Linked DNA regions of Homo sapiens. The protein of the gene in region 1 purifies or fractionates together with the protein of each later gene. This does not show direct contact. Each region holds a gene or a part of one and is shown on either strand. Other genes may lie near its edges.

Region 1 (3,654 bases):
TTGGGGATTCACTATATTTAAAATCTGTGAGGAGAGAATGGGAACTTTATTTTCTGGGACTTCTTTCTCTTATATTGAAATTTAAATGAGAGTAAGTAAGAATAACTTTGTGTGTTTGTGTGTGGGTGTGTTTTTTTAAGGATGCTAGAATAAATACCACTGAGATACAAGTATCTCTGAATTAAGAAAACATTTAAAATTAAGTTTAGTTGTGATAGATAATTGCCAAAGGATGATTATTTTTTACTGATACCACTGAGATACAAGTATCTCTGAATTAAGAAAACATTTAAAATTAAGTTTAGTTGTGATAGATAATTACCAAAGGATGATTATTTTTTACTGAGGCAATGACTTTTAAATCTTTTTTTCTTAAAAAAAAAACCAATATAACATTATAACTTACAACATTACAAACAAATGTTATATGGAACTATAGTTTGGAAAACAGATGAATTCTGGACTGCTCTAATTGAAGAAGTGAAGGGGCCTGAAAGCTTATGGATACACAGAACATGGTTTGAAAACCACTAGATTTAGTAAATAACAGCTTCACCCCAGATCATCACATTTGTACTGGCCTTTTCAGAATCTTAAGCAACTGCATGTGGACGATATACATCACAAGAGCAATTTGTATTACTCCATTCTGTGGCCAGAGATTCTTTACCCCAGTGTTATCTTAACCATTTATTATAGCTGTTTAGCTGTTTGCAAAAATGTTTTCCTGCAGACCCAGTAAATATGATTAACATTGGTCAAGATTCAGCTCCTGGGGTCAAAGATGCTAAGAAACTCTGAATATAGCAGCATTTTAATAATTTACTTTGATTCTAATTTATTTTTATCTAATGGAATTTTAGCTAATGCATAGGAAAGAAGACAGTAACACCTATAGAAGTAAGTTTTACTCCTTACAAACCACCTATAAGGAAAGTTCCAGCCAATGACACACATAGCTATATAAGAAACACTCAGATGGGGTGGTCTTATGAGGCTGAATTATAGAGAGTAGCGAATCATTCTTGTGATGTGATTAGGTTAACTTGGGGCTATATTCTTGGTTTTTAGTCTAGTTAGAAATAATTTTAATTTTAGTCTTGTAAAACTTTGTTCATACTTCATAAATTTTCATTTATGCCTCGTGGAGAACTCTTTGAACTTAAATATAAAATATGCAATTTGGATGTGCAATCAAAATGATATATGATGCAATCACATATATACTGTAGTAATCAAAAGAGTTATTTTGCTTTTATGTCACAGTTTAGACTTGTGCTTTAGTGGATGAGGCTAATGAGTATAATAAAATCTACTTTACAATGAAATTCAGAATTGAAAGCCATATGAACTAAATGAAAATATGTGACATGCAGGTGATAGGTCTTTCTGCAGTTTTTTTAGGAAAAGGTTTTCCTGAGCACTTCTATATCTACCCAGAAGTTACAGTAGAGTAGGAATAAATTGGTTTTTTGTAGATTGAATTGAACGGACTCATGGAAATCAAAAATTTTTCAGATTGACTGTATTTTGTGTTTCCTGGTAACATGAGATTGTGATCATATTACTAGGCAAGAAGATCCATACAGAAAAAAAATCTCTGTATGAGTAGTTTGAATATTAAGATGTAAAAAATGTCCCAGAAATTCCCTTGCTAGCACATTATGAGAATGATCATCAGGTTCAGGAGCTAAAGAATATCAGAGGGAGTTACTACAACTATTTTGAAATGTGTGTATTCTGATGTAGGAGGAACACTTTGTAAATGTTTATGCTTATGTTGTTTAATGTGTGTCACTGAAGTATAGTGAACTAGTTTGCAATCAGGAAAGTGGAGAGGATAGTCATGAAGACTAGGACGAATGGATGAAGAAAATAAGAGACAGGCTATAGAGGCCAACAGAGCTTTTTAATTTGGTGAAGACATTGTAGAATTATTTTAAAAAATACTTTTGCACATTTTGAACCCCATTTTGGAATTATGCCTTGTTGCTGTTTGGTATAGACAACTATTTTTTGCAAAACTTGGAAGAATGTGCTCTACTGAAATAGCCACTCTTTCTTCTCTGTGCCCTGTGCAGTTTATGCCTCCCATACAGTGTTTATCACAGAATAACTGTTATTATGAGTTTATGTATCAGTTACCATCTTAAGGACGCAGGCCAAATTTCACTTGTTTTATATTCTTAGTGTCTAGCTTCATAGCTTGTACATAATATGTACTTAATAAATATTTATTGACTAAAGGCCCTATATACATCCATATAAATTCTACTTACCAGTTAAGACTCAGCTTGAATCCCATACCTTTAATAGTGCCTTCTTGACCATCCCAGATTAAAGAATAATTATACTGTAGTTTAAATTAAAACAACTATCATTTATCTTGTTTATTTAATCTTGAATTTCCCAAATTAGGACAATGTGTCATTTCCCCCAACTCCTAGCCCTGCTCCATGCCACACACACCCCTTTTTTCCAGTGAACAGCTTGGGAAAGTGGATAGCACTTTTGTGCAGAGAAAATTGAAACCTTTTGCTCCAGGTATAAGCATCCCTGAACCAGAGTGCACGACTGGCAAAGGAATGTGGACAAGATTTTAGCACCATCATTTCAGGTACCTTTGTGCAGTACACAATCTGCACAACTGTATATGGCAGTCCAAAACATGATAAATGTTTTGATTGGATTGGATCAGGAGAGGTCTCCTGTGTTCTGGAGAGCAAACCAATAAGGAAGATCATCTACTACTTTCCAGACTGTTTTTGGCAAGTGCTGGAATGAGGTGCTACTTCAGAAATGGACCTTTCAGTGAGTCAGGCTTCTCATGCGAAACTTACTTCTAGAACGAACTAAGGGGATATTTAAATCTTCTCTTCTACTGTGAGCTCCACTGTTTTGTGGCTACCCATTCTGCAAGGATAACAATTGCCCATTCTCAAGGATAGCTAGAGAGCTATCATTTTACTCAGAGGCAGGAAGTAGTTCATTGGGAGATCCAGATTGTGTGTATTGTGTGTGTGATTGTGTGTGTGTAAATTGTGCAAGTGTGTGTGTGTGAGAGAGAGAGAGAGGAAAGGAGAGCAAATGACCTCTGGTTTTGGAGTGAGAAATGGCCTATCTAAAAAACTTTCTAGATTTGACTGTTGACTTCATTTGAATTGCACTGGAACAACTTGGAACTTTTTTTTTTTAAATTTCATTGATTTCCTAGGAGTACACACTACATTTCTTGACTATGTATACTACTCATGTAAATTCAATGTGACATATTGGAAGGGGAGCAGACTAACTGTGCTTTGAAATTATCCATCAAACATCGGAAATGTCAACTTGTTTAGAAGCAAAGAAGCAAACAGAATCCAGAGAATGAGGCTAATTGGAATCTTAAATTATGTTTTTTTTCAGAGGCAGGTACTTGTTCCATTAGAAAAATGAAGTCAGTTGCATTCAGCAAGTTTAACTTAAATTTGTAGACCCCTTGAGTGTGCAGCTTTGTATCATTAAGGGGATTCATTAAATCTATTGATAGCAGCCCTGTCAGATAAGTAGTTTCCTGCTTGGGCCTTTTCACAAGGAGCTGCTGTTTGTTATTTGCTTGCATCCTGTCACTAAGCTAAGTAATAAAATGTTGAAACTCAATGTGCTTTAATT
Region 2 (3,654 bases), on another chromosome or scaffold:
TTGGCTGCTGAAGATGTCAGCCACAGTCTGGGGCTTAGAACCTAGGCAGTACCTGGTGACAGGCAGGTCTTCGTTAGGCACATATGTAGGCTACTGGGGGATCACATAGGCATCAGACCGTATTATCACCCTCCTTTTCTCCACCACGTTCCCAAACCATTGATCCAAAAGGCCACTACATAACTACCCTGCTTATTGAGCACACGCTTAAAATGCTTTAAAAGTTTCCAGCAGTCTTGTTAAGTAGAATTCTTCTCACTTCAGGTTTCATGATCTAAAGTGAGCATATACCAGTCTAAATCCTAATATTTACTAGTAAGCTCCACTTAAAAATGTATCCCAAACTACGCCATCACTCCTATCATCACTGTGGTCTGAATCACCTAGACCTCTTGCTTGGACTGTGGGAGCCTCCTGACAGGCTCTTGCCACTGACTTCCTAACAACCCAAGGTCCACATAACAACCCAATTAACCAGTCTGATTGTGAACACACAGCCTTGGCAATGGCTTCTTGCAAAACTCAGAGAAGCTCAATCCCTCCCATGGCCTGTAAGATCCTTGACGATACAGGTCCTGCCACCCTCTCTGACCTCATTTATCACTGTCCCTTCTGGTCACTCTGCCTCGCACTGCTGTTCTCTCTGGACACTCCCCATGTGCCTGTGTGGCTTACTCTGTCTGAAGAGGTGAGATGCCTTCCCAAACCACATCATTAATCACAGTCCCTCCTCTCCTTATCTAGGCCCTTCCCTGCTTTATTTGGTTTTTCAGCACTTCTCAACATGTGTCAATTGTCCTGCAATAAGAGCATGTCCCAGACCAGGCACAGTGGCTTACACCTATAATCCCAGCACTTTGGGAGGCAGAGGCAGGTGGATCACTTGAGCTCAGGAGTTCAAGACCAGCCTGGCCAACATGGCGAAACCCTATCTCTACCAAAAATACAAAAAATTAGCCAGGCATAGTGGTGTGAGCCTGTAGTCTCAACTACTCGGGAGGCCAAGGTGGGAGGATCACTTGAGCCCAGTAGGCAGAGGTTGGGGTGACCCATGATCATGCCACTGTACTGCAGCATGGGTGACAGAACGAGACCCTGTCTCAAAGGGAAAGGAGGAGGGAGGCTGGCCTGGTTCTCTGCTGATGCCTCCTCTACCACTGCAGCAATGTAGGTACTGTGAGTGCTTGAGTGAAAGTTTGGTAGAGGAATGGACTTCTCTCCCACAGAATCTCTTATTTCCCGGTTTTCCTCACTCAAGTTTTGTTACTTCCAATCTATATAATCCCAGATGAGCAACATAAAGTCCCTACATTTAATAACTACGAACCCATTAACAAGACCCAAGTCTGCCAAGATTATTAAACTGAAGTCACAGACAAGACTTGTTTGCATACTGCTGGAATGTCCCCAGTATGTTGGGTTTCTGGTTTGTAACACACCATTTCAGGATGCAGCCTCTGGTAGATGAGTAAATGCCATGATTTTGCTGTTTACAGCCCTTTCTGGAATTCAGTAATTCTCAATCATGTTCATTAACAAAGACTCAAAGTAAATAAAAACAGTAACTTACTTAAATTCTTCTTGTTTCTGTTTCTTGTAGTCTTGTCTATATTTTGTAAAGGCATCAAATAAATGATAAATAATTTCTGCACTAAAAATTCTAACTCCTAAACTATCAGCCATTTCTTGTGCATCTCGTTCAATTCTCACATCGAAGGCCAAAATTACTGCATACCTAAAAGGTTAAAACACATCAAAGACCATTCAGTGAAAAACAGAGTATGTCACAGAGGACAGTTTTTTAAGATAGGACAGTTTTAAGATAGCTACGTAACATGAAAGCCTTCATAGCAAGAGAAATTACTTACTGAGGGTCATGTTCCAACATCACTGAAGCCTTCATAACATCTTTTTTATGCACTGGGCCAATGTTAATTCCTGCATACTGAAAAAATGGGAGTTTCCATGTTTATCTGTATGTATCAGGTAATGGCGATGGCACCAAAAACCACGACCAACCACCATTCACTTGTGGAGCGAGTTGTAGTTACTTACGGGCACTTCTGATGTTTTCAGAAATTCCAGTAGAGCTTCCAAAGAACCCAGTGTAGATGCCTGGACATAGACTCCTTTTTCTTCTAATTTGATAGCATTTAGTGTCTGCTTTAACTCATGGATCAATTCATCCTTGAAAAGAAATCAGATTTGATAAGGTTGTCAACACACCTCTATCCTCAGCAGTCTAGAATTAAATTGTGTTTCTCTCTTTGGTTAAGTACTCATCTGCAAATATGAAACTAAGGCTTAGATAGAGCAAGGCATCACAGAACCTGTGCTGGAATGAAGGAGGAGATTTCGGGGCCATACCCTAACTGTATTTCGCTTCACCTTTGTCTTAGGTTTACTAACTTTGAAATATGTTTAATCTCCGCTCCACTTGGCAAATACAGTAGATGGGTGGGCAGAATTAAACAGTAGAGAAGAAAAATTTTTTTAAAGTTAAAAAAGTACCACATAAACGTAATGTGTTATGATAGCCCAAAAGTTCAGCTTGTCTGTGTTAACTAGGAAATACCATAATCTCATGATCTCAGCAGCTCCTTCCTCCATCACTGCTTGTCGGGAAATGGAAGAAGAGATTTTTAACCAGAAATAAGTAAAACAAGTTTATCAATGCCACTGAAGGGACGTAAGTCCACTCCATACTCAGGACTGGGTGAAGAGACAGGCCTGCCCTATTCTCTCACTGGCCCTAAGATAGCTTATTCCCAACAGCATGACTTGATGCTGCCTAAATAATAAACACGGCCCCAGGACACAAGAGCCATGTGCTGGGAACAGTTGTATTTTCTCTTTGGCAAATGAACAAACTATGGCTCAAAGTCCACTTTTATGAAACTACAATGGACATGGGCCAAAAAGAATATACAATTTCTAGCTTTTTTTTTTTTAGACAGGGTCCTGCTGTCACCCAGGTTGGAGTGCAGTGGCACGATCTTGGCTCACTGCAGCCTCTGCCTCCCAGGTTCAAGTGATTCTCCTGCCTCAGCCTCCCAAGTAGCTGGGACTACAGGTGTGCATTCACCATGCCCAGCCGACTTCTAGCTTTTGACTCATTTTTTTATTTGAATAAAATGCATTATTTTTATAATTCTAGTACATATAAAAATTATACCAATTTCTATGATTGTACAAACTGAAGTAATTCAAAAGCATCAAGTTTGCTAAGAGGCCAAGAAATGGCAGGCTTCACAAAGACAAAGCCAGTTTTGGTCACCATCCCTAGCATGTGCAATGCTGACACATGCCAGAACTCAAATAGCTTTTAAGGAAAAAAATTTTTAAATGAACTTACTTTAAGAACAGGGATTTCATCTTCTTTATAAGCCACAAGGAGGGGTAAACCAGCCAATGTTTTCTCCAGGTCTTTTCCAAGAATCTTTACCCCCTGAGCTGCTTCTACTTCTTTATGCTTTTCATACTGGTTCTACAGAGATAAAAACATTTGTTACCAAATGTACTTTAAAAGTGGTTAGCAGTAGAAGATGATATAAGAGAATCTCATCATGATATTAGAGAGAGGTTTCTTAAACGAGGCACAAAAAGCAATAATCACAAGACTGATAAATTTAACATTAAAATTAAATATTTCCA
Region 3 (3,754 bases), about 73 Mb from region 1:
TTTAATCGTTTTGCTAAAGAATAATTAAAATGTCTCTAAATTTGGCAGTCTAAACAAATCTCAAAATATACTAACCCAATAGTTTCTTAAGCTAAAGTTTCTTAAAATGTTCACACTCTTAAACTCTCCACATCCATTTTCCTCACTAGGAGTTAAAAAACTTGACAGAAGTTTATTACTACTACTTTCAATACCAGGCCAACCGATTTGTTCCCTAACAGGGAAATTCATTAGCTCTTCACTAGAGCTAATGATTGAAGGTGAGAAAACATACTGAGGGTTAGCTTAATCAAAAGATAGCCAGAAATTCCCAAAAGAAATAGAAGCAGAGTTAACTTAAATTTACAAATGATTGTAAGAATCACATTCTATTGCTTGATTTCGTTTACACCATCCAATTAAAAAATTAAAAAAAGCCAGAGATACTGGTGTGTTTTTAAACTTGAATGAAAGTGTTCACCTTTTCCTTATTAGCCATTTCAGAAACTTTTGATGATGAATAACATGGTTTAAAGATGGGCAAGACCAAGAAGAAAGAGGAAAGAAAATACACAGTCTACAAATATAACTAGGCAGCCCCAGAAAGAGATGGAAATGAATACAAGCTTCAGTATCTACAAATTTAAATTTAAAATGAGGTGAGTGGATTTATCTCTTACAGGCACTTCTCCGTACCCAACACAGTAAGTAGAAAGGGGAGGATTTTATTAAAAACAGGAGACGGGTATTAAAAGGATTCAGAATGAAAGGTAATAAGTCAATTGTTTTTGTTCTCAAAAACTTCTATCATTCTTCCAATAAAAATCCCTCAGCCAGGCGAGTGTTTTCTCTTCCCCTTGTTTATGTATTATTTTATGTGAGCAACAACTCTACAATTTCAGTGCTTCTGGAATCCATAAGGCATCCATAAAAATGAAAATAGTGTTGGTGCTTTGCAGAAATAAGCAAAACAGGAAACTTAATTTCTATTTTAATATAACAAACAGCAAATCGCCTAGACTGAAGAAGCATCTTTTCAGTCATCAATTGTCACACATCTTTGAAGAAATTCCCTGGGAGGAAAGAATGGCTTTTCCAAGTACGGTGACAGCAGTCCCTCGACTTACAAGCTTTCTCTGCTCCTCAAAAAACTCCAGAAGTGCCTGGGATTAACAGAAACTCCGTAAAACTTAAGGAGTGCTTTAGGGACAAAGCACTCTTCCCGCCTTGAAAATACAGCATTTACCTTCCCGTCACTAAGGGGCATTACCAAAAACTACTACACACACTACATCTAAGACACCCTCTCCACCAAACCAATTGAAAAAGTGCTTCATAACACACATACACACACGCCCCCCAAGTTTCCAAAAACAGCGGCCCGAGTGTACTTGGGATCAAACGCTGTGCGAGAAATGTCCAGGAGAACTACTGCTTATACATTACTCTTACCTTCATGACCACTCACGTTTTAAAATCGCACGTCCGGAACGCATCACATCCGACGTGCTTTATCCCCTTACCACACTAAGAACGCAAAGACTGGCGGCAAATCGGAGCAACTTACTTACCATCAATCTGAACACCCACCCCAAACCCTGCACCGTCTCCAAGGGGTAGAGGAACTGAGTACAAAGGCACTTGGTGGTTCCCTCTACCTTGGCACCTCTCTCTCTCCCACTGAGTCTCTGTAAATTCCAAAATACACCATGAAAATCTCCGCACAGAGCACTACCAGACCAGTCAGATGGAGAGTCGAGAAGTAATCGGTTTGTCCCTTCCACGGGGGCCTTGGAAACCCGGACCCTAAAAGCCAAAATGACCAGGGGGTGTGACCTGGGCTGCTCCCTCCCATTTACTCCCCTCACGGGAACTCCCTTGTCGTCGCGGCTACTCACCAGACCAGAGAGCACAGAAAGAGGCAGGAGACCAGGGCCAAGGCCCGCCGGTGCTTCTTCATCTTCTCCTCCTTCTTCCCCCTGCCAGAAGGCGGCACATCCTCCCGGCAGCCGCCACTGCCGAGGCCAAGATGGAGGAGCCGGAGCAGGAGCGCGAGAATGTGACCGATAGTCCTAAGGGCTATGGCGCTGGCTGAGCGGCTCCTCAGTGGCTCGCGTCCTGGCAGCCCTCTCTGAGGGCCCCACAGAGGCGCGGACAGGGGCGCTTCACAGGACTCCGGGGACCGCCGCCGCTGCAGCCACCGGCTCGTCCACGCCCGCCTCCTGCAGCCGCCACTGCCGCCCCATATCCTCCCCGCCCGCCGGGGGCCTTGCTCCGTGAGGCCAGCGACCAACGGCCGCCGCGTACTCGCCTCTCAACAGCCAATCGCCGGCGGGGCCGCGACACCTCACACACCGCTGAGCTGGAAAGGGACGCGTCACCCAAGTCCCGCGGCGCCCGCACCCCCACCAGCCTCTGCGCAGGCCACGCCCCCTTCGACGTCGCAGGCGGAGAAGCCGGAGGCAGGAGACCACAAAGCGCAGGAGCAGATGCTCTCGCCGCTCCGCCCGCCCCAGGTCCCGCCCACTTGCTGGCTTGCGTTCAGAAAGCCGGGAGGAGCCCAGTGATCCTCAGCATTTCCCCTTACAGTGGACCGCCCTTCGTCCCTCGCGCGCTGAGTCCGCGCAAGGGCCTTTGGGAGTTGTAGTTTGCCTTCCAGAATTCGTTTTTCTCTTTCCCAGTCCCTCCTAGAATCCATGGTTTTGTTAGAGAAGTCTATAGTTTCGCTGCTCACCACGAGACTGATCAGCTTTGGAACTGTTGCACTGTTTTCCTCTTTTGAGCACAGTTCGTGGAATGGCCTAGAATGACGTGTGTGTTGTGAGGGAAGCTGCACCAAGCCCTTTCCCTGTGGCAATGGACTGCCCCATTGAGCTAGATGTTGATTGGTAGATAGAAAGGGGCGTGCCAAGAATCCTCTCATCTGATTGGTTGCAGCGGAAAACCTTTCGCTTTTTCTTCTCTTCAGCAAGAATTTCGCCGCTTGCCGGGTTCCTCACTTTAAGTGTGCTTCGTTGCTTTTCGTTCTGTTGGTTTCGAACTTTGGGTTCTCTGCGATGGAGTCGGAAGGGAGGAGTTGTCCCCATTAGAGGAGCACCCACAGACGCTCCAAGTCCTGGGGTTCACCTAAAGTGGGGAAGGCAGTCGCTTACACTCACCTAAGAAGAGCAAAAAGTGACCACTTCTCAATACTAAGTAACGGGGCAGCATGCCCATTCCAAGTGTTTACGCCGCTGAGGGGACGGAGGCTGCAATGGTCTGTGCCTTGGAACATGGCATAATGTTTAGTGTGAAAAATGTTTAAAGGACGGGTTACTTATTGTTCATGTGGCCGTAGGGAAAAAACCCTCAGTAAAATGCCCACCTAACGCCTAATTTTGAGCCGCGGAATTTCCTTATGAACCTTCTAAGTTGAATTGGATGTTAATTATAGTCCCAAAGAACTGAATGATTTGATCCGCTCTGTGATTCTTGGATATAAGTCAATTTGATGTTAGAGAAATTATACAAAGGGTGATAATTTTTGTTTTAAAGGAGTTCACCCTGAACTGCCTTTTCTGGCAGTAATTAGGTACAGTTCCACTTATCTGCTGATGCCACTCTTAGTATATGACAATAAAATCCTTTCATCTGTCACCTATTGCGGGAAGCAAGTATTTATCTCACCCAAAAACAGTATCAAATGATTAATATGCAAGTTTAAAAGAAAGTAGGGGCAATGAAAGGGTAGGGATAAATTGACATTCTTTACCATGTTGGACACTCTTTTCCTCTT

Evidence for each region.
Region 2: the proteins of PALMD (region 1) and EIF5B purify together in Homo sapiens (affinity purification with mass spectrometry, with the first as the bait; one study listed by BioGRID). This does not show direct contact.
Region 3: the proteins of PALMD (region 1) and SUCO purify together in Homo sapiens (affinity purification with mass spectrometry, with the first as the bait; one study listed by BioGRID). This does not show direct contact.

Annotation. Positions count from the first base shown.
Region 1 is NC_000001.11:99,662,974-99,666,627, reverse strand, and holds part of PALMD (palmdelphin), read right to left. Parts: intron 1-3,654.
Region 2 is NC_000002.12:99,392,800-99,396,453, reverse strand, and holds part of EIF5B (eukaryotic translation initiation factor 5B), read right to left. Parts: intron 3,488-3,654; coding exon 3,356-3,487; intron 2,188-3,355; coding exon 2,056-2,187; intron 1,946-2,055; coding exon 1,869-1,945; intron 1,736-1,868; coding exon 1,571-1,735; intron 1-1,570. UniProt on the Homo sapiens protein: Plays a role in translation initiation.
Region 3 is NC_000001.11:172,531,621-172,535,374, reverse strand, and holds the start of SUCO (SUN domain-containing ossification factor isoform 1 precursor), read right to left. Parts: upstream 2,226-3,754; 5' UTR 2,199-2,225; coding exon of another isoform or gene 1,940-2,198; coding exon 1,878-1,939; intron 1-1,877. UniProt on the Homo sapiens protein: Required for bone modeling during late embryogenesis. Regulates type I collagen synthesis in osteoblasts during their postnatal maturation.